Linked DNA regions of Homo sapiens. The protein of the gene in region 1 interacts with the protein of each later gene in a pairwise test. Each region holds a gene or a part of one and is shown on either strand. Other genes may lie near its edges. The genes, in order: CCDC85A and SYTL5.

Region 1 (16,070 bases):
CTATTTAATACCAGCCTGATTGAAAAGCAATTTAGAAGTATCAGTCTTTTTCTGTAGGAATTTCAGTGTTTCTCACTGGGAGTTCTATAGTTAATAAAAGTCAAGTATTAAGCATATAGACTCATTGCCTAGAAGTAGTTGCCTATGTTTCCTAGGTATTGTTTAACAGCCTCTTTTTCTTTTTTTCAACCAGGCCTTCAATGTTATTCTTTATCTGCCGTCACTCTGGCTACAGAGACACTGGGTGTTTTCTGTCTTAGCCCTTTCAAAAGATATTAATTCTTTTCTTCCTGGGGTTTGCCCTTTGTAATTTTTGTAAAAAGGCATCCTGCTAACCTTCTGTAATTATTACTTTTATTTCGTTTTATTTTTTCTGGGAACTATATTTCTGTATCTGTAAGTTTCACCTGGAGGAACAGGTATTTCAAAATTACTTTCTTTTCCTTCCAATAACATTTTATTGTTTGCAGAGATATTTTCATCAGTGATACAGTGAGCACTGCATGAAGTTAATATCATTTTAAATTTAAATGTTTTGCAAACTCTCTTATTTCACATGTCAGGAGAAAACCTTTTGGAGGGTATTCGTGACAAAGAATGCTTGAGGGCTTTGCATTATTAATCACTTCTTTGATCTTGATTTTAAAAATCTGATGAAAGAGTTAGATCTATTACTTCCCCCGGTATTTTCTATGCTGGTTAATAGCATGACCATTTAGCGAGTACCTAACCAGAAAGTTGATAGTCATCCTGGATAACTCCTTCAACCTCACTGCCTACATTCAAATAGACATTAAAGTTCATAGGGTCTTGCCCTCTAATCCATCAATATTGTCCTTTTAATTTCTTCTGCTATTTTCCAGTGTAGGCAATAAGTAATACTTTTTTTCCCTTCAAATTCTTTGTTGATCTCCTAATTGGAACTTCATCCCAGGTAGTCTGGCCTCACCCAAATCATTCTCCACACTATTACCAGATCAATCTGTCCACCACCAATCAGTTTCTGTTACATCTGTGGCTCCACATAGAATAAATTTCAAATCCTTCTTACGGCATGGGAGATTTCCCATGCAACTCCTGCATGTCATGTTGGACTCAGCTTTTGCTACTCTGGGCCTCATATCCTGTGCTCACATCCTTCTACTACAGGAAGATAGAACTAATTTTATTTTCCTGAACATGTCAGCAGCCTAAGATTTTTGGTTCTCTGAATTGAAGCTGCTTACTACGTCCACTGTGACTCCACAGACATCAATCTCAGCCATTATTTGGCATAATAAATGAGGGGTGTGTGAATTAATATTACTTTCATTTGTTTATTAGGATAGATACACATTTTATGTAATGGTTGCAGCCACAGTTATGTGCCTGGAGTGGAGAAGGTCAAATGAGCACAGAGCTGATGTTAATCTGGTGTGTAGCAGTTCATCTGTATCAGTTATTCATATTAACATGCTTCTAATCCAGTTCCTTCGAAGGCTGCTGAGCTATTCCAACCAATCTGACCCTCCCTAGGATCATCTGGATCTCTCTGTAACCCAGGAGCCAAAGAATGAGTGCATAGACTAGAAGGAGACTTCTGGGACCCAAAGAAGGAAAAATCACTCTGGGGTATAAATTACTGAAAACATTACCAGGCCCACAGTTAGTATCTTTAAAAAAACTTTTTTTACATTTATAGATAAAATTACATCTTTACTGTGTACAACATGATGTTTTAAAGTATTAGACATCGTGGAATGACTTAATACAGCTAATTAACATATACATCAGTTCGCATAGTTATCATTTTTGGGTGAGAACACTTTACATCCACTTTCTTAGTATTTTTCAAGAATGCAATAAATTATTGACTATAGTCACCATGCTGTACAGTAGATCACTTGAAATTATTCCTCCTGTCTAACTGAAATTTTGTATCCTTTGACAGACATTTCCTTCTCCTTCCCAATCCCCTCAACTCCTGGTAACCACCTTTCTCCTCTCTAAGTAGAAATAAACTTTTTTTTTAAGATTTCATATATGAGTACGATCATGCAGTATTTATCTTTCTGTGCCTGACTTATTTCATTTAGTGTAATGTCCTCCAGGTTCATCCACGTTGTGACAAGTGACAGGATTTCCTTCGTTTTTAAGGCTGAATAGTATTCTGTTGTATATATAGATAGCACATTTTCTTTATTCATCCATTCATGGACACTTAGGTTGTTTCCATATCTTGGCTATTATGACTAATGCTGCAGTTAACATGGGAGTGCAGATATCTCTTTGACATACTGATTTTGTTTAATTTTAATGTATACCCAGTAGTGGGATTGCTGAATCATATGTAGTCCTACTTGTAATTTTTTGAAGGAACTTCATACTGTTTTCCATAATAGCTATACTTATTTGCATTCCCACCAGCAGTGTGCAAGGGTTCCCATCTCTCCATATTCTTGCCAACACATCTTTTGTCTTTTTGATAATAGTCATTTTAAAAGGCATGAGGTGATCTCATTGTGGTTTTAATTTGTATTTTTCTCTTGATTAGAACTGTTCAGCATTTTTGCATAAATCCTTTGCTATTTGTATGTCTTCTTTTTAAGAAATGTCTATTCAGGTCCTTTGCTCATTTTTCAATTGGGTTGTTTCCTTGCTATTGAGATGTTTGAGTTATTTCTATATTTTGGATATTCACCCAGCATTTTAGGAACTCACATTAGCCAGTTTTATTAATCTTTTAATGGACAGCACTTAGGGTAGTGCTAACGTGGTAGGAGCTTAGTGATTGAGAGCTGTTATGTCAAAAACAGGCCCTCAAGAAGTCCTCTGCCTGCCGAGGAGTCTGTACATAGGCTACAATCCTTCACCACATGTGACGCAGAGAGTAGTCGCCTCCTGGTCCAGATTTCTCCTTCTTATTTCTTTCATCTTTTATGATTTAATCTCTCTTTTATCTTTTTATCTATTTAATCTTTTGCCATTATCTTATAATGCTTTCATTAGCACTGAGATGTGTTTCATGTGTCAGGGCCCCCACTTCTATTTGCTGGCAATTTTATTCTTTCCTAATGTGACTGCTTCAAGTTAAGTGCAGAATCTTTGCCCAGCAAATTGTTAAGTAAGCTTTATGATCTTCCATAATTTCCACAGAGCCCCTTCTGCCAATTGTATTCTCTATGTGGGACTGGTGTCACGATTTTCTAGGTACTGTAGCATACTATATGTCTCTATCTCAAGAACTCTTTCCTTTGGACCACTGCCCTGTGCCTGCCCACAGCGTATTCTCTTTCTGCTAGTGTTGTTACAGTAGGATGATATGGGTATTTTCAATTCTGTTTCTTTTATTGGAGTAATTTCTTATTTGGGGGTGGAAATGTGGCTGCCTTTATACTTAGACCATTTGAGGGCTGAAGCTTAAGGAGTTTCCTTCTAAATCCTTTCAAGCTCCAAATCCTGTGGGCAACATGTCCTCATATGCAAAATCTGCTATAGAGCTGTCACCAGAAATTTTGCTTTGTAGTTTCCCAACATAGTTCTCTTTCTCTAAATCAGGGTTTCTCAACTTCAGCTATAGCGACATTTTGGGCTAGATAATCCTTTCTTTGTGAGGGGTCTGTCCAGTGCATTTTAAGATATTTGGCAACATCCTTGGCCTCTACCCACTAAATGCCAGTAGAAACTGCATAGTTTTGACAAGTAAAAATGTCTGCAGGCATTTTTGCCAAATGTTTTCTCTTGGGGGCCAAATCACCCCCGCCCCCAATGAGAACTGACACTCTCAATAATAAACATTCGGACATAAATTGACAAGTTATAAAATATGTTGACAAGCAAAGCAAAAACATTCATGATAAGGACAGCAAATGCTTATAGAGCACTTATGTGGGCCAGACACTGTTTTAAAAGCTCTTTCCATGTAAGTTTCCAAGCCCATAGAGTGACCGTACCATTTTACCATTATTATTTACACTGTATAGATGAGGAAACTAAGGCACAGAAAGGCCATATAGCTTGTCCAAAGTCATGCAGCTCATAAGTGTCAGATCAAGAATTTAAACTCCGGCACTGCGACCCTGGAGTCTGTGATTTGAACTCACTGTGTTTCTCTTTCAACAAAAATTCGTTGGAATAGGTATCTATATGGCATTGCATGCAATATCACGTCTGATAGTTACTAAATTAATGTTTGTTAAGTGAATAAATGAATGACTATACATCCAGGAAATTACTTATTATTTTACATCAGCATTGAATAGATTCTTTAGTTAATTTAAATGAAAAATGCACTTTTCTTTGGATATAACCGACTAAATATTAACATTAGAGTAAGGCAAGAGGGTCTTAGCATTTCTAAGCCTATGCACAAGAATCTCTTGGAGAGGGTTTGCCAAGGTGACCTTTAAAATCTCTTCTAATCAGAGCTTTTATTTATTTGCTAGGACAGTTTTACAATATGTCAGAATGAAGATTGGCCAAACTGAACAAAATATTATTTCCCTGATGAGATTAAGCAAAGTATCTGCCTTGCCCTGTAATAAGGGAAAACTGAATTTATCCTCCCCCTTAAACTAGGCATACACTCTGATGAGGTATTAAATATTATATGATAGTTTAACCAAGTTCAGGAATTATAAAAAATTAAGCATCTTTAAGTAACAGGAAACCACTTTAGCTGATCAATCTTCAGGCTTCCGTAGTTGGCCTTCTATAGTGAATGAGAGGGCTGGGGTCTCAAATTTGTTATAAGTGCATTACATCTGATTTATATCAAAGTGAGAAACTATTTTATGTAACACTACAGTATTACTCTATTGAATGTGAGTTTTAGTCAATTGGAAATATTTATATAGTACATATATATTTTTATATATACACATACATATGTACATATATGTATATGTATATATTCAATAAGAAACTCAGTATATTTGTTTTCCATTTTTCTGGCGTGCAAACAAAACTTTTTTTAGGAAGAATTTTCATTAAATTAAAAAATTTCCTTGACTTCATTACTAATTAAAACATTATAAAGGATTTTTCTAGGAGCTTTATTTTTTAGGTAATTTTCCCTACTGCAGAGATCACACATCAAATTCTGAGTGATCATCGTTTTGTGATTCATGTATTTTAGATAACATATAATATTGGACATTTCTTAGTGTTTTTCATTATTTCTATGAGGAACAGTAACACTTAATTCACGCAAATTTGAGAAAAGAAACACGACAGTGTAAAAAAGTTAAATGGTCTATTTTTTTGCAAAATTGGTTTTTATTCCCTTCATTTACATATATAGCTCATTGTGAGCAATAAGGGAAAGATAAACTATAATGTCTTAGAGAATGTTGTACGTCTTTAAATAAATAGATGAGAACTATTTATTATTAGAATGGTCGTAGTTTGAAGAGAAAATGTTGCAGATGTAGTTGTTCAAAACTTCATGTTGATTTCATGTTTAAGTACAGAGAATTTTATACCCTGTTGAAGTTTGAAGAACTAACCAGAATCTGACCCCGAAAGTCCTGAGGACTAAAGGCTATGACTCATGCTAAACCCATGCAAATGTCCATATGTGAATTCATTTGCCCATCTTTATGCCTTTCAAAGTCAGCAAGGTAAAAGTCTTCAAGTCAGGCTGACTTATTCTTCTTAGCTTAAAACATAGGTCACTTCATACTTTATTACTGAGGTTTCCAACAAATAGTTCTTGGGGACTTTTTCTGTTCATCATTCAAGAGGAACCTTTATGTGTGTCTGAAGTTCGCTGAGATGCCTGGTGAGTGAGAAGTACAGTTCGGATTTCCCATTTCCCCCTTTTTCTTCTTTTCAGTACTTGATTTTCACTCTTCTTTCCTCCTCACAAATTTTTGAAATACTTCGTTTTCTGAAAAACCCTACACTATTACCTCTATAGAAGTTTCCAGAGTTTTCAAGGAATAAAAACTATTGACTAGTACAGTTATAGCGAAACTTAAAGAGACTCAGTGATTCATACTTCTTCATATTCTTTTATGATTTCTGTGAGTACTTACCACAGAGTAAGTAATCTATAATTTACTTCTCACACAATGGGAGTGTTAGGGTCATTCAGGGATTCTTTTTCACAAACTTGGAATTTTAGAAAACTACAGAAAACAAAACTAAGTGAAACAGAATTCCTCAGAAAATAGGAAGTGACGATCTTAAGACTGTTTGGAATTGTTCTCCCAATTAGTGACCAGAATCTGAGTTCCACCATTTTGAGCCCCCAAGTTGCCAGAAACAAGTTTAACGACTGAATTACTGAAGGCTTCTTACGTTTTATGAAACTGTCTTCAGCAAACACTGTAATTGGTGATTGTAGGCCCTGCGAAACACTAAGCCTTCATTAGTGTATAAATACCATTTTGATGTAGTTTATTTGAAAGTTAATGATGATGGCTGGCCCAGAACACACTTTTCTATATACCTAGATTAAAAAAATATATATGCTGACATGGGGAGAAAATTAATTAATCCTGGTTCTAAAAGAGTGCCTTTTCCTTTAAAATGGTTATATCATCAGTTTATTCTTCCACAAAGATCTGGCCCCTGTTTATTGTTCCCCCTTATGAGATTAATAATACTATAAAATACATATTTAATATATTTTAAAGGAACATTTTATAATACTTAAAGTATAGCTATTGTTTTATGTAGTATCTACTTTCTGAAAGTTGGAAATTATTGTGAGTTCTCTACATAGTAGCTAAATGGCGCTCATGCCAGCTGGCTTCTAAGTTGGCATAGATCCTACCTTAGATTTCATGGGTATGATGATAAGCTTTGTTACAATGGAGAGGAATTGGGATTTAGCCTTGCTACACATTAAGAAAGAATGAAAGTAGAATGCCTATATGTTTTACTCAGTTGTTAAATCCAAAAAGGATAAGATCTGAGAGGTGCATGTTATGGAAATAATCAAATTCAGATACTAGATCTCCTTATTTGTAAAAATAATTATAAAATTTGCATTACTCATTAATGATCATCTCAGAAATAGAATTATGCAGATTGGGGTGGGAGGTGAGTATTAAGCTGTGAATCATGTTATAAATTTTTGGAGATAATTCTTTTGATGATGGAAACAAATTAGACACTACACATGGACTAATTATCAAAAGAGCAATGTTCAAATTAATGTTGCTATGATGAAATTATCATTATGACCCAAGTGCAAATATATAATTGCCTCTGTTATACGTGAGAAGTAGAGTATGTGTGACTTATTTTTATAGGTCACTGGTGCCAATTTAATAGGTTCAGAAAAGAGTTTTGTGAGTACCAACTACTGGTCATTATTTCTTCTCTTTCTTACTTCACTTAAGACCATGGTGCATTTTCTTTTTTCAACCTCCAAAAGTTAGAGAAGAGTGAAAATTGGACCAGTACTATTCAGATATAGGCCGCTAACTTCAAAAAAAATGAATTGATGAGAATTAAAATTTTATGTTCTTATTTTCAGTCTTCTAAAGTCAACCTCAACATTTAGACACTAGAATTTTGGGACCATTTTGCGTATTTTCCATAATTAAAATTATTAAATTATTAAAATTATTTTCTTATTCCTTGGGACATTATATTCTTAGTTATAGGTCTCTGTGAAAGTTGGCAGGAGAGGAAATCATGTTCTAATAAGTTCATTTTGTTTCTGATCATTTTAATAGGATTATACAGTTTGGTGATGGAAAAAGCTAAAATTAAGGACTTTTTTCTTTTCAATTATGTGATGCCTCTAGTTCTAATAAATACATAAAAATTTAGTTAACTTATGAATACAAAGTTTGATGATTATGTAGATTTTTCTATGTAAAATATTTATTTTAATGCAGTGATGACCTTTTAGCTCATTACATTCTCTTCAACATGCAGAAATTTTGTTAAAAATTTGATGCAGTTTTAATTTTCTCAGTATTATTGAATATGTATACCCAAATTTCACTTCTTAACAAAAGGGCATAGTGCTCCCAATTGTATTTCAAATAACTTTTGTTAAGTTCTGAAGTTATGTAGTTTATTTCTGTATAATATCCAGGTAAAGCATATTATTATTTTATGCTGGTAAAACCCATAAAATAAAGTTGTTTAAATACCTTCAAGTTTTTTCTGTAATTTTGACTTTATCGTCTACTTTTTGATAGAATTTATAATGTAGTTATATGTTTACCAGAAACTTAAATCAGGATTAGGTCTAATATGTAGGACTTCAGATTGTTTTTATTTTTATTTTTTCCCTAGCTACAGGTGCATGTTACAGCTTGCCATTGTGGTCATTGTGGTTCATCTCATTAAGCTTCATGTTCTATCTGCTTTCTTGAGACTTGGGAAACAGTATTTTTCTGAGTGATTGTACCATATTGTTCCAAATATAAGGCCAGCCAGAATAGAAGGCAACCTCCAACTAGAAACAGCTCAAATATGGAGAAAGGCTGGGGGTCCAGAGCCCGGCGGGTCTTGCAGTGGTGGCAAGGGTGCCGAGGAATAGGACGATGCCTGCCTACTCTCCCGGTGAGTGAAGATGAGTCAGCTGGATGCATTTGCTTGTGCATAACCAGATGACTTCTGTTGCTAGAGAAAAAGTTATACTGGGGGGTAGAAAACAAGTTCATACACATGAAAGAAAGTTGTATGTCTAAGTCTGGGGAGGGAGGATGGGAGTAGAATTTTTCACCTCCTAAACAGTTTTCTTGTTTTTTTCCCCCACATCTGGGGGTGAAAGTTGAGCAACCGCATGCAGGAGAGAAGAACAAAAGTACCCTGGACATTTCATGATAAAAGGAGTTTAGGTCAGTGGTCTTGAAAATCATGTCTCTAGACAAGCTCAGAAAAGTACTCCTTTGCCCTTTAAAATTGTCTACTGACTGAGAGGTGATGCATGCACTGTGTGATCATGTGTAGCTTGAAAACAAGCCACTTAATCTGGAAATCACATTTCCAGTTTTAGTAAGATTTTTCTCTTTTTAAATTCCCTGTTTGGCTCAGTAGCATATTTTTTTAAATAGTTCAGTGAAAATGTATTAGTCGACTGAGAGTATATGTAAATTGAACCCTCATAATTCTCCAAATATTGGTCTGATTCTGCTAAGCGCATAGAAAACTAACCTTTTATTTTATAGTACTAAATGAGATATAGTAGAATGAGGTGCTTCATTCTGTTATTGCAGTCTAGAAAAATTATTTAACATCTGTTGGAAGTAAACTTCACCAGGCACTTGGTTACCTTTGTGGCTTCACAAAAACAAAATAAAATATAAGCCTTGATCTTTCTGGTTGATTTGTAGTCCATGGCTCCCAAAGCTAGTTTGAAGTATAACATTCATCCCTAAATGATGAATTTCCCCCCACTGTATACTCCAGGCAAAATACTATTGTAGCCCCCATCCCATTTTTTAAAGAAAACTACTTTCATAAAAAAAAAAAAAGTGTGTTTTTTAATAGATATGGCCAGAACAGGACTTTGTTTACATTTAAACAATGGAAAATGGCTCAGATGATTTGGTTTAAGGATGTTGTTTACATTGATTTTTAGAAGTTCTCTGAAACCAAAATGCCCTGAACGATAGAGGCCCATGCCCAAGCAAAAGGATGGTATTATTGATACGCTTATCTTTTTACCAGGTCTGGAAAGAGAACATTTGAAGCAGAAAGGCTGGGCAGAAAAGGATTTGAAAGTAAAAACAGGAAGGAAGTAGCTCAGAGTGGGAAGGTTTATTGCCTTCTAAATTAGAGGAAATATGACTTCTAAGTCAGAGGAAATATGGCACTGCAATGGTGGGTCCTAAACAAGAGTTTGAAGCGAATTCTGTATAACCTGAGAAATCTTTTGAAAAGCATTCATAAGAGTGGTACCAGGAGGAAAAGAGAAGAGTAGAGGACCAGGGTTACTCAGGAAAGAGGAGCTTCCTTTTATAACTCCTTAATTTTGGAACCATTTGATTCCAAAGGATCCAAAGTATAGAGGAAGAAGATGTCCAAAATATGAGGGTGGGTGAAGGGTGTGTCCCTTAACCATCTTTTAACTTCAGATAATTTCCCTTCCATTAGATGTATTAGGCATTATTGTTTCTGATTTGATCTGGTTTATAAATACAGGAAAACAAATGTTTTAATTTCCTTTCCCACAGGGGATTGGGTCTGTTCTAATTGACAATCCTGTTTCATCACCTGCTGTACATTTTAGTTTTAGTAGCAATGGAGGACAGAAACTGAGGAAGCCACGTACATGCCATATTCTACTGCTTCCTCTCCTTGTTGGCCAGTGAGGCTGGGTGCAGGACCTGACTGGATTATAGAACTCTTTGAGCAGGGAAAAGAATGTGGCCTCAGTAGGCTAGTGAGGTGGCAGGGGGAGCCTTTGAGGACATAGGAGAAATGACAGCAAGAAAGAAAGGGAGAAAATCTTCCAAATTGCAAAAATAATAATCTGCAATAATAACATTAAGTTAATAATAATAAACTTTCCTTATAAAGCATGGTTTACATGTAATCCATACCTATAATTGCTGGGTGCAGTTTTCTCTTCTTATCTCTAAAATGTACAGCATAAAAATTCTCTTGGCTGAGCAGGATTGCTCATGCCTGTAATCCTAGCACTTTGGGAGGCTGAGGCAGGAGGATCACTTGAGGCCAGGAGTTCAAGACCAACCTGGGCAACATAGCAAGACTCTGTCTCTGTGAAAAAGATAAAATGTCACTAGGCATAATGGCACATGCCTGTAGTCCCAGATACTCAGGAGGCTGAGGTGGGAGGATTGCTTAAGCCCCGGAGTTGAAGGCTGCAGTGAACAATGATCGTGCCACTGCACTCCAGCCTGGGCGATGGAGAGAGTCTGCAAGTTAATATTCCAAACTACCGTTGTTTCTCTCTTTATGAATTCTCATGATACACCTTCAGTGACTCCTCTTCGGGGTGTTAGATTGATAGAATCAACTTGAATGGAGCAATTACTAATCAATTAGACATGAAAAATTCTGTAAATAGGTTGATAGGCAGAAATTAAAATTTCAGGTTCTCTAATAGTGTAATGATCTACATAAAAATAGATTTGGAAAATTCCCATGTGACTGCTTTTTCTAGGAGAGTAGATAACTGATACTCTCTTTTTCTTTACTGATCCATTAGTCTTCCCCCAAGCACCCTTTAGAAAAAGTACAGATCCTTAGGGGAAATTTCCAGTGCTTGTACAGAAGAATGTGGCCTGCACATGTCAAATTAATCATGTACAGGTTCTAGTTTCTCACCAATTAAGTTGAAGAACCACTAAACTAAAAATATGTAGTTTATATCTATTCTGTTTTTCATCTTTAAAAAGAGCAGAAAAGATCAATTTTCAGTTTTTAAAGAAAACGTTGAATTTGGATAAATCTTTTTTGAAAATGCTTTATTATAGGTCTTTCCCTCAAAGAAGGGTTTTATAAGAGACACAGTTTCTCCAACACAAGAATGTGATGTGTCTGCATATTCTGAGACATATGGAATATGGCATTTGGCTTGCTGAGTGAGCATGTTTAACTCAGCTATGGAGTAACTCATGAATTTCCTACTCTTAAGTATCTTTGAGTTTCAAAAATCATTCTTGAAATGTGTTTAAGGGCCATTCCTTGGGGGTGGGGCATTTCAGAGATGGCATCTGACAATGTATTGAAGTGGCTCTTCTTTATGTTTTCTTGCTGGTCAAGCAGCAAGTGTGTTCCAATGAACAGATTGATAGCATTGTAGACTAGGTTAGGAAAAAGTAACAAAATGGCTAATTCTCATTTGGTAGTGAAATTGAATATTGAATGACATCTTTGTAGTTATAAACGACTTTTGTTTTAATAACAAAGTTGTTGATTTTCTACTAAGGGTTCTTTTAGGTTGTCATCAGGGGCTGATGGGAGTAACAGTTCACCCAACTCTGCAGCTAGCTTCAGTGGACATGCCACACCTTCCCAGCAGCCTGAACCTGTGGTACATTCTCTTAAGGTAACCAATCGTGTGCAACCATTTATCCAGAGCTTCAGTTGTGTCGTCGCTTGTTCGCTGTAGTCTAGTAGTCCTCACAGTCTTGCTTGAACCATAGATATTTTATTTTTTGACTCCTTATGGTGTAACTTTTTAAATCTTAATTTTTGAAGTATGATTTTTATTGTTCTAAACTGACAATGAGTTTGAGTACTTATGGTTGAATCTCTAGTTTTATCGTTTTGTTTTGAGAATGTGATTCATATCTATCGGCATCGAAGTTACAGTCTGTGCATGTATATCCATATTTGTAAAAAATTGTGATAGGTATTTTATGTGCAATGTTTGTAGCGTGGATGTCTTCAAATATAGGAAGTTAATAGTTGGTCATAATATGGAAGGATACCACAGTATTCTTTCTTGATGCAATTGAAGTACATTATGCAACTTAAATAAAATATTGAAATAAATAAAAACCTACTCTTTCCTCTTCTAAGTAGAAATTGGGTTCTCAAACTCCAGTTAATGCCCCGTTATAGAATAATAGAAAACAGATATATGGTGTTATACATAAAGCTACTTTACTTTTGTGTCTTCCTTCACATTTTGCAGTGATTTCACAAAAAATTGCCTAAAATTTGTCATCTATTTTCTTTACCAATAATGAGCTTTCCAATAAGTAAAACTAATGAAAAATCAGGACTATAGGTACAATTAATAATAAATAAACAATATAAATATTTACTTATCTCAAAGAAGAAACTAACACAGGTGATAAAAATCATCTTACAAATTGAGATGGTTTCTTGAAATTTTATCAGTTTCAATGTATGAAGCACTGTCTAACAAATCTATCTATAATTTCTAACATGTAGCTTTGATCAAACCTTTCTGACCCATAAAACAGGTAGAGTGCTTCCGATCTGCTTTTACCATGTGAGTTTCACAACTCTTCTTAAAATTGTTTCAATTTCAAAATGATTTATCATCAGCCTGGAGATGCACTCCTCTTTTGGAGTGGGCCACACTTTCTGTGGCATGCACAAAACAAATACATAGATGAGAACTTCAAAATGTTTATTTCACTTTGAGATGATGAAGTTTTAGCAGAAGATTTTGCTCCCTCAGGATATTTTGCTTTAGCTTATACAAAATGAATTTGCTTTTCCTAAACATATACTGATTATTGATGAGGGAAGGCAGGGCAACCATGCTAGTGGCCACTGACAGTGCACTTGGCATTTTCTGTCTTTGTTGGAATAATTCACAAAGTGAGCAACTGAGAGGAATTCCTGGGAAGGCACAGCCAGTGTGAGGGGGCACTGCTTTGCCTCTAGTGGGTGTTGGTTTATGGACTGTTGAATATCTTGTTCTCTGTGGCAGCACTTGGATGAACTTTAGCATGAATCAGGCACTAGCTATCTGAAAAGCATTTTAAAAGTAGAAAATGGACCAGAGATTGGCTTCAATCTTGTAGTATTATAGCATCTGCACACACTCCAACAGCAGCAACTTGTCCTCCTATTCAAACTGTTTGAAAGCCATTTCAGCCTGTTGCCTTATTAAATGGCAATTGCTATTTGAATCAGATCAGCATAGTGAGTCACACTGAAATATTTTCCAGATTTCTCAAAGCAGCTGTTAGTGTGGCCTAAAAGGAAGGGGAGGGCAAGGAAGAGCTCCTCAATTTTCTCTGAATTTAGTTCTAATTTTCATACAAAATTTTATCTCTGGGAGGCCAAGGTAGGCGGATCATGAGGTCAGGAGTTTGAGACCAGCCTGGCCAACATAGTGAAACCCTGTCTCTACTAAAAATACAAAAATTCAGCAGGGTGTGGTGGCAGGCACCTGTAATCCCAGCTACTTGGGAGGCTGAGGCAGGAGAATTGCTTGAATCCGGGAGGCAGAGGTTGCAGTGAGCCGAGATCGTGCCATTGCACTCCAGCCTGGGTGACAGTGTGAAACTCCGTCTCAAAAAAAAAAAAAAAAGATATATATGTTTCAAGAGAGGGAGATTTTATGTTATATTCAGTACACATAAGTGTCCTTGGTTGGCAGATGAGTGATACTGAGCAAGTGAAACATCTTTATTAGAAAACTGGGGACCCTTGAATATCAAATGTTTTTACTTCCATGAGTTAACTGTGTTAGGACACAGAAATATGTACAAACATCAGTTTTGGGAAATACATCTTAAAAAGATTTCATTATAAGAAAAAGAAATTATGGCCACTTGACATGTTTTGTTTTTGAGAGCCAGCTGTCTAGAGCTGATTTATATCATGAGATATGTCTATTGTGAAAAGAATAATTAGTACAGTGGCTCAGTTTCTCACTTTCTGATAGATTTTATAGAAAACGCTAGGCTTTATAAAATCTGTGGTCATGGTTTGTGGGAAATGTAAAGCACTGTAAGAAATTAGTACATTTGTGATGACACTATATTCTTCTTGTTTTAAAATTTATGATAACTATTAATTGGAGCTTTACTTCATTTAGTAAAAATTAACTGATTTGAAGTACACTTCTCTGAGGTGCATTACAAATCAAATTTGTAGGTAAATGAGCTTGCTCAAGGAAGGAGCTCTTTATGTTTTCTATGAATATTCACCAAGCACAGTCAGTGATTTTCTCTAAATATGTAAAGAAGGTAAATTAACTGTAATCTGAGGTGAGTATCAGGGCTCAGAAGTGGCATTTTTATAATAATAATGGCTAGACGTTTCAAATTAATGAGTGTAGTTTGTGATCAGATTATTTATTACAGGATCGAACTCTAGTTAGATTCAGATAGTGTCCATGAACTTGACCTGAAGGTCCCACTTCATGCTTAAGTCATTTAGTTTGGCTCAATTGGTGTAAATTCACAGGTAGCAGATGTGAACATCAGCATTGTCCGTGATGACAGTAGAATCAAGTAGCTTAGCAGTGTTGCAGTTGGTGTGGATTCTATAGGAACTTCTAGGGAGAGCATTAGTTTTTTGTATTACTTCAACACTTTGATTTATAAACTGATATAGATAAAAACAACAAACAGCACAGAAAGCCAAAGTTATTTTCTCCTTTTGTAGTATAAAAAGGTACCCACAATAAAACTTTAGACATTTTTAAAGGAATATTATTTTCAACGTGTTTAGGGCTAATTTAGAGAAGTGGAAACATAGGCCTCTAAAATTGTTTAAAAGGCATTTTATTCCAAGACATTTTGCTTTCATGAAAAATATTTAAAGTGTTGTTCAAATATTTTCACTATAAGGAGCCAGTGCTTCTCTTTGATACTATCAAAGAGCCACCTCCACATGCCTTTTCTTAGGCACTGGGAACATGTCCAGGCAAGAACTGCGAGGTCAGTAGTTCTTACGTGCATATTCCTGGGTTTTGACCAGTTTCACCTGTCACTATCATCTTTTTTAGTCATCTTTTATGCAGGCCATGTCTACATATCATTTGGACCATTTGGCACATAGTTAATTATATTGGTCATCATTACAGTGGAGCAAGAGTTATTGACTATATCCAAATTGTTGATACAGTGAGATTATCTTAATGACCAAAGTAAATGCATATACTTATTTTAGACACTAATGAATTCCATTGATTATTAGTGATGCAATGGATTGCTTTTAATGGCCATTTGAAAATCAAATAGAATCATTCCAAATAGATTTCAGAACAATCAGCTATTTAAAAAATATGTTTCCATATGCTAATCCACTCTGATATGCAGACATGGAGAAAACTAAAGGTTTTACAAAGTGGAGCTCCTTGATGGTTTTATCATAACTAACAAGCTTTTTTCCATGTGAAATTTGCTTTTCTTTTTCAACAAATCCAGGTCTTGGATGTTCAGGAAACTATAGATCGTCAACAGGGTAAAGAGTATGAACATGACCTTAGTGAGACAGAAAAAGCTATAGTCAGAGAAATGTGCAATGTAAGTTTAATGTGCTTTATTGTGTATTCTGTGTTGAAAGCCACATCGTAGCTTAGCTATTGTTTTATGAATATTTTTAAAATGCTGACCAAATGCCTTTATGTTTTTATATGAAAATAAAACCAATTTCCCTTGTTTTTATTTTCAGTATATTTTATTGTAGTTTTATTAATACAATCATGTTACAGA
Region 2 (16,070 bases), on another chromosome or scaffold:
ATTTGTAGGTTGATCTCCCAAATTCATCAGGCTTGGAAAGGACCTTAGACTTTCTGCATAACTACATTAGCAAAACCAAACCAATTCTATGGAAATGCCAATATTAATAGAACAAATATTAATACTCCTCAGAGGGAGATAGCAGAGTCTTTACACTATATGATCCCCATTGTCCAATATGCAATAAAAAAATTCAACATGCAAAGAAACAAGAAAATATCACCTATTGTCATAAAATCAGTAGAAACAGACCCAAAAATGTCCAGTTGTTAAACTTCATAGAAAAAGACTAAATCAATTATTATGTATTCAAAGAACAAACAGAAAATAGGTTCAAAGAATGAAAGGAAAATATGATCTTTATAAATGTACAGATAGTGAATTTCAGCAGAGAAATGGAAACTATAAAAATAACCACATGGAAATTTTAGAGCTTAAAAAATTATAGTAACTGAAATTAATAACACACTAGATGGGCTCACATTAGTTTGGAGATGGCTAGCATCAAATGAGCTTGAAGACAGATCAAAAGTAATCATCCAATCTGAAAAAAATGGAACAAAACATGTATCTCTAAACTTTTTAAAGGTGTTGTATTGACTTCTTTTGTATGAGTTTTTTAACATAAGAAAGTAATAACTCTCTTGGTACTTCAAGCTAGACTCACGTTTTCGATTCTCCAGGACACCACCTTTGGGGTTCCCCACTGTAGCTAAAAGGGACCTGGCTATGGTAACATAAATGGGTAATCACCTTGGCAGAAGTGATCTTAACAAAAATTTCACTTACTTCAACTAAAGATTCAGTACCATACAAGCACTGAGAAAACCTCACTCATTCTCTAATGTTCAGCTGAGCAATCACATACTGTTACACATTTGTCTTCTAAAAGTCATACATACATAGCACAGTGCTATGATTAGATACCTGGACTATGGTTATGGAGTGCCTGGATTTAACTTTTGACTCCAGTACTTACTAACTGGGTGACTGTGGGCAGACTACTTAGTTTGTTCATTTGTAATATGGGGATAATAATATTATACACCTAACACATTTGGAGAATTATTGGAGAGGATATATGTAAAGCACTTACAACAGTGCCTGGCACATATGTGTTCATTGTTATCACGTTTCTCCCAGGTTTTTTAAGAATAGAGATTTTCAGGGGTAGAAGAATATTAAAAGAGTGAATCACCTTTAAAACACTGGTGTAAAAAATACCTCATGTCAAAAAATGTTTAAAATGTGCTTTAGATGAAACCTGTTACCTTTCCCCTGCTGATCAACAGAGACATTCCTTTTTGAAAGCTCAGCTTTAGAGATACTGCCTTCTTCTTGAAATAGCTGTCTGCAACAGATAAACATTACTCTGTGCTACTGGGTGTGTTCAATGTGTAAATAGATTGTGGGAATATGAGAGGCTGGTTTTTCAAGTTCCTGCTCCAAGTAGTTCACAAGGGTCAAGTAGTCCAGCATTCTACAGTTTGTGTGTTTGAGAGAAAAATAAGCCCATAAAAACATTCTAACCTTCAGATTAAGGTAAGACTAATGCGTTTAGGGATCTCCAGTGTGATATCTGATTTCTTAATTTCTGTATTTTGTGTGTGGTAGGGGAGTAGTGGGATTTGCTGGTCAGGAAGAAAACAGCTCCTTCCACCATTTGATATTGTATTTTACAGTAAAAAAGGGAGAAATATGTACAGAAGGGACATTTTGGCCATTGGTAGCTATGAGTTTAATGGATTGAGGAGAGAAATATAAGTATCTTTTTGTTATTAACACTTGATTCTATCTATGAAGTGAAGCATTGCACTAGGTTCTACTGAAGAGTGAGTGCCTCCAGGAACAAATATGCATTCTAGTGACATAAAAAAATCAAATTCACAGCAGAAGTGTTGCATCATTTTGCTATAAATCTCTCACACCTCTCTATATAAACCTCTCACATCTCTATATAACATAGATTGTCCTTTTGCTCTGAATTTCTTTCATTTATTAGAAAATTTAGATGTTTCATTTGGAATTATTTAATTGTTTTTACATTCAGTTCCATTTTTGATATGGACAAATATCCAGTATGGATATAAATTCAGTAGAAGGATTAATAAAGTCTGAAAAACCTGGAATAATTTCAACATGAATATGATACTGTAACAGCTTACAGAAATGCGATATTAACTGTGAACATTAATATACTCTGAAAAGATGCATCAGGGTTTAAAAAATTTCTCCTTAATGTAGATTGTTTTAATTACCAATACTGTCTTCCTCATTTAAATGAAAAACGTAATTTTACAACTATTAATATATAACTTCTCTTTGCTCCAAGTATATGTGTATGCCTGGAGAAAAGCATATGCCTGGAGAAAACAGGAGTTATATATTTATAGCATTCAAAATAGTATAAAATATTGTTTACATGTAATAATGCATTTAGAAGTACTACTTCAGTAGTAGCCTCCTTAAAAAGTATTTTAAACACAGGAATTAAGTATATAATTTTTTCATTTTGTAATAAGTTGTTTATATGTTATTTGGACAACAGCTTACACACAAAAGTGTTACAATTCATACCCTAGGTCTTAAATGCATGAAGCCATTTGTTTGGACTCTAGTGAAATCCTTAAATTGGTCCTTGCATCCCTCAGTATATATATGTACATACCCACATATACATGCATATTTACATGTGGGCAACTAATAACTGAGAAAATGTCTTACTGCTCTTTTAGTTGTTGAATCATGCTTTTTCTATGTATTTATGATTTCCTGAAATTCTTTGCTATTTTAAGTTTGGGTATTAGCTATGTTATCCTTCTATTTATTCAGATTTGTTAAAGTCTTCTGATAGGTTTAGTGAATAAAATTATTGAGCTTCTACCTCTTTTCTTTTGGAGGCCCATTTAGTATTTTTGTTGAAATTACTTCCTTATTATTATTTAGTATGTTAAGGGAAGGAAAAGGAAATGTAGCTTTAATATGTAAAATGAGCAGTTCGTTTTACTTAAGCTCTATTATATGATGATGTATCTTATGACTATTTTGCCATCCTGCGTAAGCACTTAGCTAATCATCTTTAATACATTCTACTTAAAATCTACTTGTAAATATGCTTTTGTACATTCATATCTTACTTGTCTGTGGTCTCTCATCCTCTTTCTCTCTCACCCCTCTATATACATTCACACATTTTCCATGATTTCACAAAACTTCTCTCCAACCTCGTTCCATTCCTGGTTATCTCTTTCTGTGGGGAGTATCATCATTTCCTTTGACCTCTGTTTCTCTACATCTTCCATCTTGCTTAGCCCATGGACTTTTGATTTTACTGAAGACAGCAAAAAAGCAGATGGTGCTTCTGTTACTTGCAGAGTTAGCAACCGCTGTGGTTACCTTAGGTTCTGAAAGATTATCTAAAATAGGGAGGAGCTCCTAGAGGAACAAAATATAATAAACATGTAGTGTACTGGGATAAAAAATTCACTTGATCTGGTCTCTCTCTCCTTTTAACAAAAACATTTCTCTAAGAAGTGATTAATAAAACATACCCTACTGCCTCACTTTCTCTTTTAAAATCTTTCTTTCAAATTCCCCTATGACATAAAATCAATCTTCATCACTTTATTGACACTGTACTTCCAAGGGTCACCTGTAGTGCTGCTAGGAAATTCAAGTACATTCATTTATTTATGTATTCATTCATCCATTCAATAAATATTTATTTAGTGACAGCTATGCATCAGGCATTGCTGAGCACTGAAGTTACAGTAGGGAACACTTAAGTCTGCCTTTATATATCTCCAGTCTAGTTAGGAAGGGTGTTAACTCACCCAAATAATTCATTACAAGTGTGATAAGGGCTATAAGGAATACTTTTCCAAATTCTCATTTTATTCATCCCCTTGGCTCTATGTGACACACATGATCAATTCCTACTTCTTAAATTTTCTCTTTCCTTCTTGTCCATGACTCTATACTATTTATTCAACTGCTTTTCTACCACTTCCCTTCTTGTCTATTTTTCCTTTTCTCTTCCTTAAGTTTGGGTTTCCCTCAAAGGTTTAGCATTTATTTAGCCTATAACCTATTACGTTTTGCCTTTCTCTATAACTTCTTATCAACCCTTAGTTTTAAATATCACCTCTAAGTGGATACCTCCAAGACTTCCATTTCCACATCTTATCTTTTCCATCTGCTATACATTTTCCCACTTGTATGTCCAAGGGTCACTCGACATTCATCATGATTGTAGCCAAACTCACAGCTTTTATGTCAAACCACTTCCCCTTTCATTTCATTTGTTTCTGTGAATGGCATTAATGATCTCTTGGTTTCTCACATTTGAAATCTTGGAGTCAATTTTGCTTCTAACTTTTCCTTTGCTCTCAATATCCAAACCACTACCAAGTCCATTCATTTCTTTAATTATAATGTATCTAGAAGCCATCCTCTCTCATCTCCCTTTTCTGTTATTTTTTTCTTTTATTCTCTATTTTCTCATCCTTTTTTCCCTCAGTCTAAGAGCTACCTACAATTCAAGGTTTTGGTCAGGCCCCATCTCCATCAGAAAGTCCACACCTCATGGATATCTTCTTTTTCTAAGCCCCAGAATCATTGGGGTAGTGAAAAGAACATAGCCAAAGAGCCAGGTTTAAGTTTTGATTCTACCATTCACTGCCCCCTGTGCACTCTCTGTGAACCACAGTTTCCTCAGACTCATTCTATCTCATATAGTGGCCACAGGAACAAATATAGTCATGGAGAGGAAATCATTTTGAACTATGAAGAACTATATAGATATTAAAGTAAGATTTGTTGCTGGAAGAATAACTCAGTAGCAGAGACCAAAACCCCAGGTCTTAACTATTGAAATCATATTGTGCAGGGGTTGAGAGTGTTGACTCTGCAGTCAGATGACCTGAGTTTGAATCTCAGCTCTGCTACTTACCAGCTGCATGAAATTGAGAAAACTTAGTTAGCTTTCCTGTTGCTGAGTTTCCTCACTGTCAATTGGGGATAACAATAGTTTCTACTGATAAGAGTGTTGTAGGATTAGAACGTTTAGTAAATGTAAAATACTTAAAATAGTGCCTAGCTCATAGTAAGTGCTCTGCAAATGTGGAAGAGGTGGTAGGGGCCTATGAGGCTAAGTGTGGTTACGAGGTGAAAGCCAGGTATTAGAACTGAGCCACCAGATGGGGATTAGGTACAGCAAGGATGCAAGCACAGAGCTACAGACTGGACACATGTACCTAGATGAATCCCTCATGATTCAGATAAAAAAAAGAATGATCTTGCCATTTGGGGCAGAACTGAGCAAATGATGGAGGTATGAACGTTCTGAGCGACCATTCGGGGCACAAAAATGGGGATAACAGTCTTTCAGACACATTTTCTTTTTGTTAAAGAAGAACAAATGTTAGATTGCCCTTTTGTGTTGTGAAATATGTCAGTATATCATGGAATCAAAATGTCAGTATCCAAATAAATGTCCAAATGTTGAGAAAGCTGACTCAACTGTCCTCTATATTCTAGAAATCCGTCTCTTTAACAGTCATATGCTTATTGCATTTCAGAGGACAAGGGCCCTTAGAAATGTCATTCCTCACAATTTATAGGATTATTGCCCAAAGTGTGTATTTTTACTAATACACTTGGAGATTAGTTTGTTTGATTGTTTCATGTCAGAAAGAAAAATAATAATAATACTTAGAATATTCTAAGGGTTGTTCTAAGTGCCTTAAATTTTTTAACTCATTTAATCTTCACAAGAACCTCATGAGATGAACATCATCATCATCAACATCATCGCCACTACCATTTACATAAGAATAAACTGAGGATCATAGAGGTTAATTGGTAATTGGACCAGATTTCAAATCCAAGCAGCCCAGCACCAGAGGCAATTTTCTCAAGCACTGAGTGCTATCATATCAGCAACTCTGTGTTTTAGAATCTGGTTAAAAGGGCATGCTCTGGAGTCCTAGACTGCTGTTACATGTTGCATCTCCAGTTTTCCTTGACAAGTGGTAATAAATGTTTGATATTTTTCATAATTGATAAAAATTACTTACATAAGATTTATACTAAGTAATCCAATGTCCAGTAATGCTGTGCAAGAAGAGTCTGGTTTTTCTCATCCATTATTCTGTATTTGAGCATCAAACAAAGGCCTCAAATACTGATGCTCTCTGTTTCCTAGAGAGTATGTTATACTGCTGGCCGGGCGCGGTGGCTCACGCCTGTAATCCCAGCACTTTGGGAGGCCGAGGCGGGTGGATCACGAGGTCAGGAGATCGAGACCATCCTGGCTAACATGGTGAAACCCCGTCTCTACTAAAAAAAATACAAAAAATTAGCCGGGCGCGGTGGCTGCCGCCTATAGTCTCAGCTACTCGGGAGACTGAGGCAGGAGAATGGCGTGAACCCAGGAGGCGGAGTTTGCAGTGAGCCAAGATCGCGCCACTGCACTCCAGCCTGGGCAAAAGAGCGAGACTCCGTCTCAAAAAAAAAAAAAAGAGAGTATATTATATTGTTTTGCCCTGTACTTAACTGATGTTGTACCCGTGTACTTAACTGCTGCTGCTGCCCGTGGGGATATTTTCTAGGGTATCTGTGAGTTTCCATCTTTGTCTTTGCTAACTATTTCAAAAGTTCAGGCTCAATTTTTGGAGTTGCTATGTTTGTTTTCTATTTCCTATTTTAACTACTTCTTGTTCATTTAAATGTTCTCTCACCGTAGTTTAGTGGGATTTTTTTTTTTTACTTTTCTCTAAGCGTTAGCTACAAAAATAACTTAATAGGCTTTTAGTTCATTTTCTTCTTCACTGAATAAGAATATTAAAATCAAATTTACCTTCACCGAACACTTAATAACTTTTTTCATTTCCAAGAAGGCCCAGTGCCATTTGTAACTCTTGTTAAAGTTTAATTTAGCAGTTTCCAATTTTTGTAACAGTCGACTTATCCAGGCTAATTTGATTTAATATTTCTAACAGAATGCCAGGAAACACTCTGTTCCTACAATAAGAACATGTCTGATTCATTTAAATGAATAAGAACACGTCTGGTTCATGTAAATAGACTTCAGCGGCATTTTTGTTTTGGTGTTGTGCAGTCAAAAAATATTTCCGAGAGAATATCAGGACTTGGAAAGAAACCAAGAAAATGAATACAAAACAACTCTAAGATACATATCATTCTAAAGCAAGTAAAATCCTCAAGACCAAATAATATAATTTAAACAACCATTTAACATTGATAATGTTTACTAAGAATGGAAGTGGTAGACTTTACCAGAAAATATAGTTGAGTTGGGGTGGGACGTGGGGGTGTGCAATAGAGAAACCAAACTTGGAAAGAAGCCATCAGATAATGATGTTCCAGGTTCAAATATAAACTTTAAATCCAAATATACTTTTATCTGGATTATAAAAACGAAAGTTCAGCAACAGCCCACTTTGTAAACACAGAACAAGAGTGATCATATCAAACAGGTTTACTTAATACAAATAGCAGAGTATAGACAAATCCATTAATATATCCCCCTAAGAGCTATTTATGTACAACAATAGTCTTCTCTCCCTGGTGTGAAGTTACATTAAAATCAGTATATGATTAAAATTTTTGAAATTGATTTCATTAAATCAAGTGACATTATATCAAAGATCAGTTTTCAAACAAAGCAGTAAGAGCCTATTGCAAAATAGGCATTTTTCCCAACTTTCAACAGATAATGGTATATCCAAAGATGTCTGTGGCCACAAACAAATGTATAATTTTTAAGTTGCATATTTTGACTAGAACTAGATATGTACTAAAAAACCATTTTGTGATGAAGAATCACTTCCCACTAATTGAGAGACCAGCACAGGGAGAATACTATTGATCTTAAATACAAGGAAGTCCAGACATTAATATGGAAAAAATATAGATTGGGATGTCCTGTTTGCATTAGCCATGTTCAAGAAGGAAGAATTTAATTTGCTTTGAACTACTCACAGCTGCCATCTAATTATTTTTGTTGACTGTTACAGAGTTTGAGCTCCAAACACAGGAAGGTTATTTCTAAATCAGTTATACACAACAACCAAACAGCTATTGATTTTCTTTCAAGTGAATTCCCATCTGACTCTTATTGTTCTTGTGAATAATAGTCATATGTATGGCTTTATACTTAAGCACAATAGGATATAACTAAATATTGGCTCAACTCAGACCTAAAGAGTAGGTTCCTGAACAGTGAGAATATCATCTAGTGATAATCTTTCACTGCTTATACTGGGAAAAATGTTGAACCTGGGTCAGCAAACATGAAATGTAGGTTCAGTACTGCTCCTAATGATAATGCCAAAGGCTCACACTTTCTGAGGATTTACCGTGACTCAAGAACTATTCAAGTGTTTTCTATGTAACCAAGGCATACAGAGGTTCAGTCATGTTTCTCAGAAATTTTAGAGCCAAGATTTAAACCAGAGTTCCTGCTTTGTACCAGAGTCACTTTGGTCAGCTTAAGTAACTTCCAAAGGCATCTTCCTGGGGTATTTTTTCCTGCTGCACCAATTTTTACCTTTCTTCCTGATTCTCAGGCTCACTCAATCTATACTGGTATCTGCGAACCTGTCACTGACCTCACCCCATCTCCAGCATCTCACTGATTGGTTTCCTCTCCATGATCTTTTCTTAAGGGGACCCTGCATTCTTTGGGCCCCTCATCATTACTCAAGGCCCCTAGATCTACTGGCCCCCTCAGTCCTCCTAGTCCCTCAACCACCACCAACTCCTCCTCTCCTAGCTTAGCTCCCCCATTCCTGCTCACAGGAGCCAGGTAGCATCAGGACCTCCCCAATCTCATTTTCCTCTCTACCCTCTCCACACTCTGACTACTGTTTCAGCTTTTATTTCTTTCTTTAGTCAGGGCAATCTGCTCTGATGTCATATCCTACATCCTCTCTACACTGTCATAATAAAACTCTTTTGGTATGTACAAGTGTGTACCCTCCAAAGCAGGAGTGCTGGGCACTGGTATAAATTTGACCAATACAAAATTAAACACACACACACACCTGTGTGTTATGTTGTATATTATGTTATATATAATATTGTTGTGTGTGTACATATATGTTATATGTATGTATATTTAATTCTACAGTATATTATAGTGGTCAAGAGCACAGTCAATAGAGTCAGACCCCTTAGTCAGAATCCAGCTTCACCACTTACAAGCTGTGTAACACTGGACAAGTTACTTAACCTCCCTCTGCCTTGGTTTTCCTACCTGTAATATGGGAATAGTGAAAGTATCTAAATCAAATAATTGATATTGTAAACCAAAAGGTATCTGAGACAGGTCTCAATCAATTTACAAAGTTTATTTTGCCAAGATTATGGATGTGCCAGTGATACAGCCTCAGGAGGTCCTGACGACATGTGCCCAAGGTGATTGGGACACAGCTTGGTTTTATACATTTTAGGGAGCCGTGAGACATCAATCAGTATAGGTAAGATGAACATTGGTTCAGTCAAGAAAGGCGGGACAACTCTAAGCAGGGAGGGGGCTTCCAGGTCACAGGTAGATAGGAGACAAATGGTTGCATTCTTTTGATATTTTGATAAGCACAATTTACAGGAATAGTCACTTATGCCTTAGTCTGGCTTAGTGAAAAAACAGGGCAAAGGAAGCAATCAGATACACATTTGTCTTCTGTGACAGAGGGATGACTTTGAGTTCTCCCTGTCCTTTGTCCACAAGAAATTTCCCTGTGAGAAAAATTGTGAGGGAGGTATGTAGCTTTTTTATCTTTGTAGGTATCTTATTTAGGAATAGAATGGGAGGCAGGTTTGCCCAATGCAGTTCCCAGCTTGACTTTTCCCTTCGGCTTAGTGATTTTGGGGTCCAGAGATTTATTTTCCTTTCACAATGTAAAGATTGTACTGTTCATATATGTAAATCAAGAATTCATAACAGGGCCTGAAACTTGTATATAAGTGCTGAGTGTTCACTATCATTATTACCATGACTCATAAGGAAAAAGCATTAAGGCAAGTATAATAATGGAGCAGGAAATATACATTTAAGTGGAAAATATAGTACAACATGGATAATATGACATGTGTGATTAATTACGACTTGAATAATGCGAAGCATGTAATTATTTTTGGCTTTGCATTTGATATCTGAGGAATCCCACCATTTCACATGAAAAAGTGCATGTGACAAGGAATCTTCCAGGAATTTTGCATTAGAAGTTCCTTTTGATCCTCCTCAAAACCCTGTGAAGTTAGTACTATTATTATCTCCACCCTGTATGAAAAGAAACCAAGGTTCAGAGAGGTTAAGTAACTTAGTTTCTGTAACATAGTAATTGCCAAAGCTAGGATTTGAATGCAGAGCTTCCTGACTCCAAAACCTGACTCTTTGCAATTCTCCACTTGAGGTGTCCATTGGAACCCCATAGGACGTTAAAAAAAATCCATGGAACACAAACTCAAGAGATTCTGTTTTTTTGAAAAGCAGCTTTTGTGAGATATAATGTACATACTGTACAATTCACCCATTTGAAGTGTACAATTCAATGTTTTTTTTTTTTTAGTCTATTCACAGTGCGTTTAGCCATCACCACAATCTAATTTCAGAACACTTTCGCTCTGGGCGGGCATGTCCACAGAATCCCTGGGGTCTTAATTTCAAAGCCACAGACCTTGTAGGAGTCTTGAATGAACTTCAAATGATTTGTGAACTTTTTCTAGGATCCACAGCTTTCACTATCTTCTCTAAAGTGATAAAAATATAAGCCAAAAATGTATTAAGAAACTCTAGACCAGAATGGCCTTGAACTTTAAGGTACAAATCACTGGGGGACCTTGTTAAAATTTAGATTCAAATTCAGTAGCTCTGGAATGCGCTAGGCCTACTATCATTAATTTTAATGATAGGAATGCTCACTTTAAGTTAGATGTTATGTGCCCTAAAATTCCATTCTTCTCTTTAGTAGATCTATGCTATGAAATAACTGCACTCAATTATTATTGTTATATTTTTAATGTCATCGGTAAAATATTGGCAGACATTTATTTTCTTGATTGATGCATACTTATCCACAAAATAGCTATGGTTTTGGCTCTTGGCGCAAAAAGTCTAAAATATTTACTAATTGTTCCTTAATAGAAAAAGTTTGCCAACCTCTAATATAGACCATGGGGGAAAGCCACCTTTAAGGAGCAGAAATGTTGTTCATCTTACTCTCCACAGCTCCTTGCTACATGTGGCAGACATGACATTATCAATCAGACTTATAGGAATCCTAACCAAGTATGAGGGGCAGCAAGCTGGCTATATTTATGTATAACTCCTCCTCTAGAGGAGAAATCTGGGCAGATGAGGGTCAACTTCACTTTTAGTTTAAAAATACATCTCCCTAGAGCTTCAAGCTGCTCTCCTGGGTGATAGCATGGGTGGGTGTCCACAAAAGACCTTCATGCATTTTCAGTTAGGTCATGTCTCTATGATCTTGGAAGCAAGATTCCCTAAGAGTAGTCTGCAATCCATATAGAGAGCTTGGTTAATTGGGTTTGGATGATGGTTCACCAAACGTACAGGTAGAATATTTTATCTTCTTACACTCACCTTCAAGCTACTTACATTAAGGTGTTTGTTCAGAACATTGAACTTTCAAGAGCTGTCTGACCATGCATTTCATATGTATGAAGGCATTTCTGCTTATTTTCCAACACTAACTCACTTTGAATGCTGCAAAAATGATCTATGCTATGTTAATGCCTGAATATGCATGACTTCAAAATTCTCCAGGCTTCAGGTGGTCTCCTGCACCATAAGCCTCTACTGCAGAGCATCCTCTTAGACATCCATCTTGAACTATTTTTTCCTTATGTCTTAGTCTATGACTTTAGATCTCCTAACTAATGGTTGATTTTTCAGCCAATTTTGTTGTTGTTGTTGTTGTTGTTTTTTGATGCGAGAGGTTGCCCATTCTCAAAACCCACTTCCTTCTTCCAACCAATGCCCATTGCTACAAGGCCCGCAACTGTGTTCAGCTTTCAGCATGCTCCAGGGGAACAAGTACAAAGTCTGACCTGGATGGAATTAGATTATGCACCAAAATAATTCCAGGATTTACTAATTTATATCATTAGAAACCTAGAATGTTAGGCCAAGGAAGATGTAATATAACACTGGATTAGGCCAAATGTATTGATATGGTGCATTTTTCAGAGATTCTGGATTTAGTGTGATACTTCTTGCAGCTGGAGGTGTTGTTAACAGTTTACTTGATTGTTTAGTTGAAATGTGAACTTAGCAATGACCTACATCATTGACTCTGTGTGATATACTTGACTCCCAGTTCATTAGACTTAACTAACTGCTCCTCCCATTCTGTTGATCATCCCTCTTCAGTCTCTTTCATCATCTCATTTATTCCTCTTGTCCCTGGACCAAACCGAAGATCAGGCTGCTTATTCTCATGGCCCGATAACGAGATTCAGATAAGCTGGGAAAGAAGGAAGTTTATTTCTGTAACCGGCTATGGCTGAAAAATATCTCCAGACCAACTCAAAATTACAAAGTTTTTTGACTTTGTAATTTTGAGTTGGTCTGGAGATATTTTTGACAAAGAGCTTATATACCTTCTAAGCTATATGTCTACATGTAAGTGTGCATTCATCTAAAGACATAAGTGATTTACTTCTTCTATTCTATAACTAAGATCTGACTCCTAAAGACCTTCCTCTGGAGCCTCAGTAAATTTACTTAATCTAAATGGGTCCAGGTGCCGGCGGTGATTACCCTTATCTTGTCTCCTGCTAAATCATGGAGGTCTGGGGAGTTCCTTCAGACCCCCAATAAACTTGTTTGTGGAGGTCTGGGGCGTTTCTTCAGACCCCCAGTAAAGTTTGTTTTATCCTAAATGGGTCCTGTTAAGAATTCCTTCATTATCTTGCCATACTTCAAGGCCCAGGAAAGGCCTGGGCAAAACTCTTGGTGGGCTTTTGTTACCTTCCAGCCTTTGTATAAGGGCACTGGCTCTATCAGCTTTTAATATTTAACTTCACCACTCAGTCAGTGCTGAAACAGTTGTTATGGAGGCCTGCGTTAGTGAGACCTGGCCTGCCACACTCTGTCCATTCTTTAAATATTGTTGCTTCTCATGATTCTATCTTTTGCCCCTTTCACTTCTCTTCCTGGTAATCTCACTTGCTTGCACAGCATCAACCACCATCCACCATCGAGGCACCAATGATTCCCAATTAAATACCTCTAGTATAGACATCTGATAAGCTATAAACAGTTTATGGGAAGTTTCCTATTCTAAATGCCTTTCTGGACAGGTCTTTGTTGTTGCATCATAAGTACCTTTGTTGTTGCACCATAAGTATCCGGACCTCAACATATCTAAATTGCAATTAATTATTTTTTTTTCTCTTTCAACGTTTTTTGTCTTGTACTCTCCATCACTGTGAACAGTATTATCATCAACATTTCTAGGCTTTACCCCCGTGTTACTGAATCAGGCTCTCTGGAGATAGACACCCAGAAATCTATTTTTAACAATATACTTAGGTATTCTTATGCACACTAAAATTTAAAAACCTTTGCAGTTCCCCATGCTGGAAACCTCAGAGTCATTCTCTTTTCTCTTCCATACCACCCACATCGAAGAGGTCACTGGATCTTATTGAGATTATTCTAAAACGTCCCAAAAGTGACTCTTATTTTCCTTCCCACTACACAGCTTTAGTTCCTAATCTCTCCCTGGCACTTCTGCAAGAGCCTCCTCATTTTGTCTACCTGACCTTTCCCCTGTCTTTCATCCAATCACTGAGTGCTGGTCTTTCAAAAAACAAATAAAAAATTCAAATATGATTGCGCTGTTCCTTGGCTTTAAAGCTTCAACAGCTTGATGGCATGAGAACAGTTTTCAGGCTTCTTAAGGTCATGGAATTCTTTCTTCAAATAAAATCCTACCAGGAAATCTAACTTATAGAACAGATGAAAACGGAGCTGCTCTGTTTGAAGCAGTCGTCGGCGCCACAGGCTTGGCCACTCAGCCTCTTTCGCTGTGTTTCCTAAGAAAACATTCCTGAAGATACAGTTTGAAAAACACTGGATAAAGTCCATATTCTTTGTTTGGATGCCAAATTCCTCCCACTCTGACATCCCCCTTTCTCTTAGCTTTCCAATATTAACCCAGACCCCAGACCTGGAGTTAGTCACTATTTCTTCTGGACTAGTTGTGTGTTCTTATGACTTTTTCACATTTGCTGTCTCTACAACCTAGAATGACCACTTTTTTCTTCCTAATTGTTTTTTCCTTTGTGTTCTCAAAGCCAAAATTGGGATTTATGAAACTGTGATTTTATGTTTATGCTTGTCTCCACTAGAAAATAATAGAAAATAGAGAAGCCCCTTGAAAACAGAACCTATGCATTCTTCATGAATGTATCCCCTAGATCCAGCACAGTTTCTTTTTTTGTTTTTTATTTGTTTGTTTGTTTGTTTGAGACAAAGTCTCACTCTGTCGCCCAGGCTGGAGTGCAGTGGCGTGTTCTTGGCTCACTGCACCCTCCACCTCCCACGTGGAGGGTGCCTCAGCCCGGGTGCCTCAGCCTCCCAAGTAGCTGGGACTACAGGTGTGTGCCACCATGCCCAACTAACTTTTTATTTATAGCAGAGATGAGAGCTCATTATATTGCCCAGGCTGGTTTCGAACTCCTGAGCTCAGGTGATCCGCCCGCTTCGGCCTCCCAAAGAGCTGGGATTACAGACCTGAGCCACAATGCCTGGCCCAACATAGTTTCTGACACATGATTCTATACGTGTTTACTGCACGAACATTTATATGCTCTATAACTCATTCTATCTGTTCTTTGGTTTTATATTTTCTTCAGACCGAACATGTCTTTTTGAATTAAACATCACTTTAGGAACTAGATGTATTAACTTCAAAGCTATATGACACTCATACTGTTCTTTGCCTGTGTTGTAGCCTAGCATGATAATTATTGATAATCAGTGGATATATGCATTGTGCATCATGACATATGAAGCAGAGGTAATATGGCTATAAGATATTTTTGACAGAAATGCCATTTGCTGTATTTTTTTAACTGATTTTATATGTAACATGTATTCATTGTAAAAACATATAAAGAAAATTATAAAGAAGATATTAAAATACATTTATAACTATCCAGAAATAGACTTAATATTTTGGCTTATTTTTTCTCATTCTTTCTTCTATAATACATATATGTGTGTGCATATATATATATATATATATATATATATATATATATATATATTTCTTTTAATATAATTGGGACCATACTGCATAAGTAATTTTGTATCCTGAGTTTTTTTCACTGCCTTTGTATTGTGAGCCTTCAAGCATGCCATCACATATAAAAAGACTATTAGTATTATTAATAATGGTATTAATTAAAAATTATGATGTTTCTAAGGAATTGCTAAGATTTATAAATTCTTAATAGAAAGTCTAGGAAGCCAGAGACCTCTGGGTATTTTGTGAATCAAAGGGAATGGAGGTTTGTGTTGGACTGATGCATTTTAATGACGTATTGCTTAACTTCATTGAGAATAGAAACGATGGAGGGGTCTAAATTTTCTGAGCATCTGTTATATGCCAGGCATTGTGCTAGACACTTTTTATACATTAACTCATTTTAATATTCAAATGATATATTCTTCAAACCCAGGAAGTAGATATTAATATGCCCATTTAACAGATGAATAAACTGAGATGCAAAGACAAAGTAGCACATCTATGTTATTATCTCAGGGAGTAGAATTTTAATTCCATTAGTTTCCAAAGCCCATACCCTTTCCTCTACCCCACACTTTCTCCAACACCAACTTTGAGAGGGTACACAAAGTCAGTCTTTTATTCTGAAGATGTTGTATTAGCAGTGCTTACCCTGTGGACCATAAGCCCTTGGGTGACCACAGTTTATAAACCCCTGAAATTACCTCCCTTTGTCATTAGAATGTATATGTATATTTTTGAGGTAGAGAGCCTATAGTTGTCACT

Evidence for each region.
Region 2: the proteins of CCDC85A (region 1) and SYTL5 interact in binary tests that used the Homo sapiens proteins (3 or more experiments, as listed by UniProt).

What each region holds. Positions count from the first base shown.
Region 1 is NC_000002.12:56,363,968-56,380,037, forward strand, and holds part of CCDC85A (coiled-coil domain-containing protein 85A), read left to right. Parts: intron 1-8,376; coding exon 8,377-8,511; intron 8,512-11,848; coding exon 11,849-11,968; intron 11,969-15,782; coding exon of another isoform or gene 15,783-15,881; intron 15,882-16,070. UniProt on the Homo sapiens protein: May play a role in cell-cell adhesion and epithelium development through its interaction with proteins of the beta-catenin family.
Region 2 is NC_000023.11:38,005,127-38,021,196, forward strand, and holds the start of SYTL5 (synaptotagmin-like protein 5), read left to right. Parts: upstream 1-1,426; 5' UTR 1,427-1,542; intron 1,543-16,070. UniProt on the Homo sapiens protein: May act as Rab effector protein and play a role in vesicle trafficking. Binds phospholipids.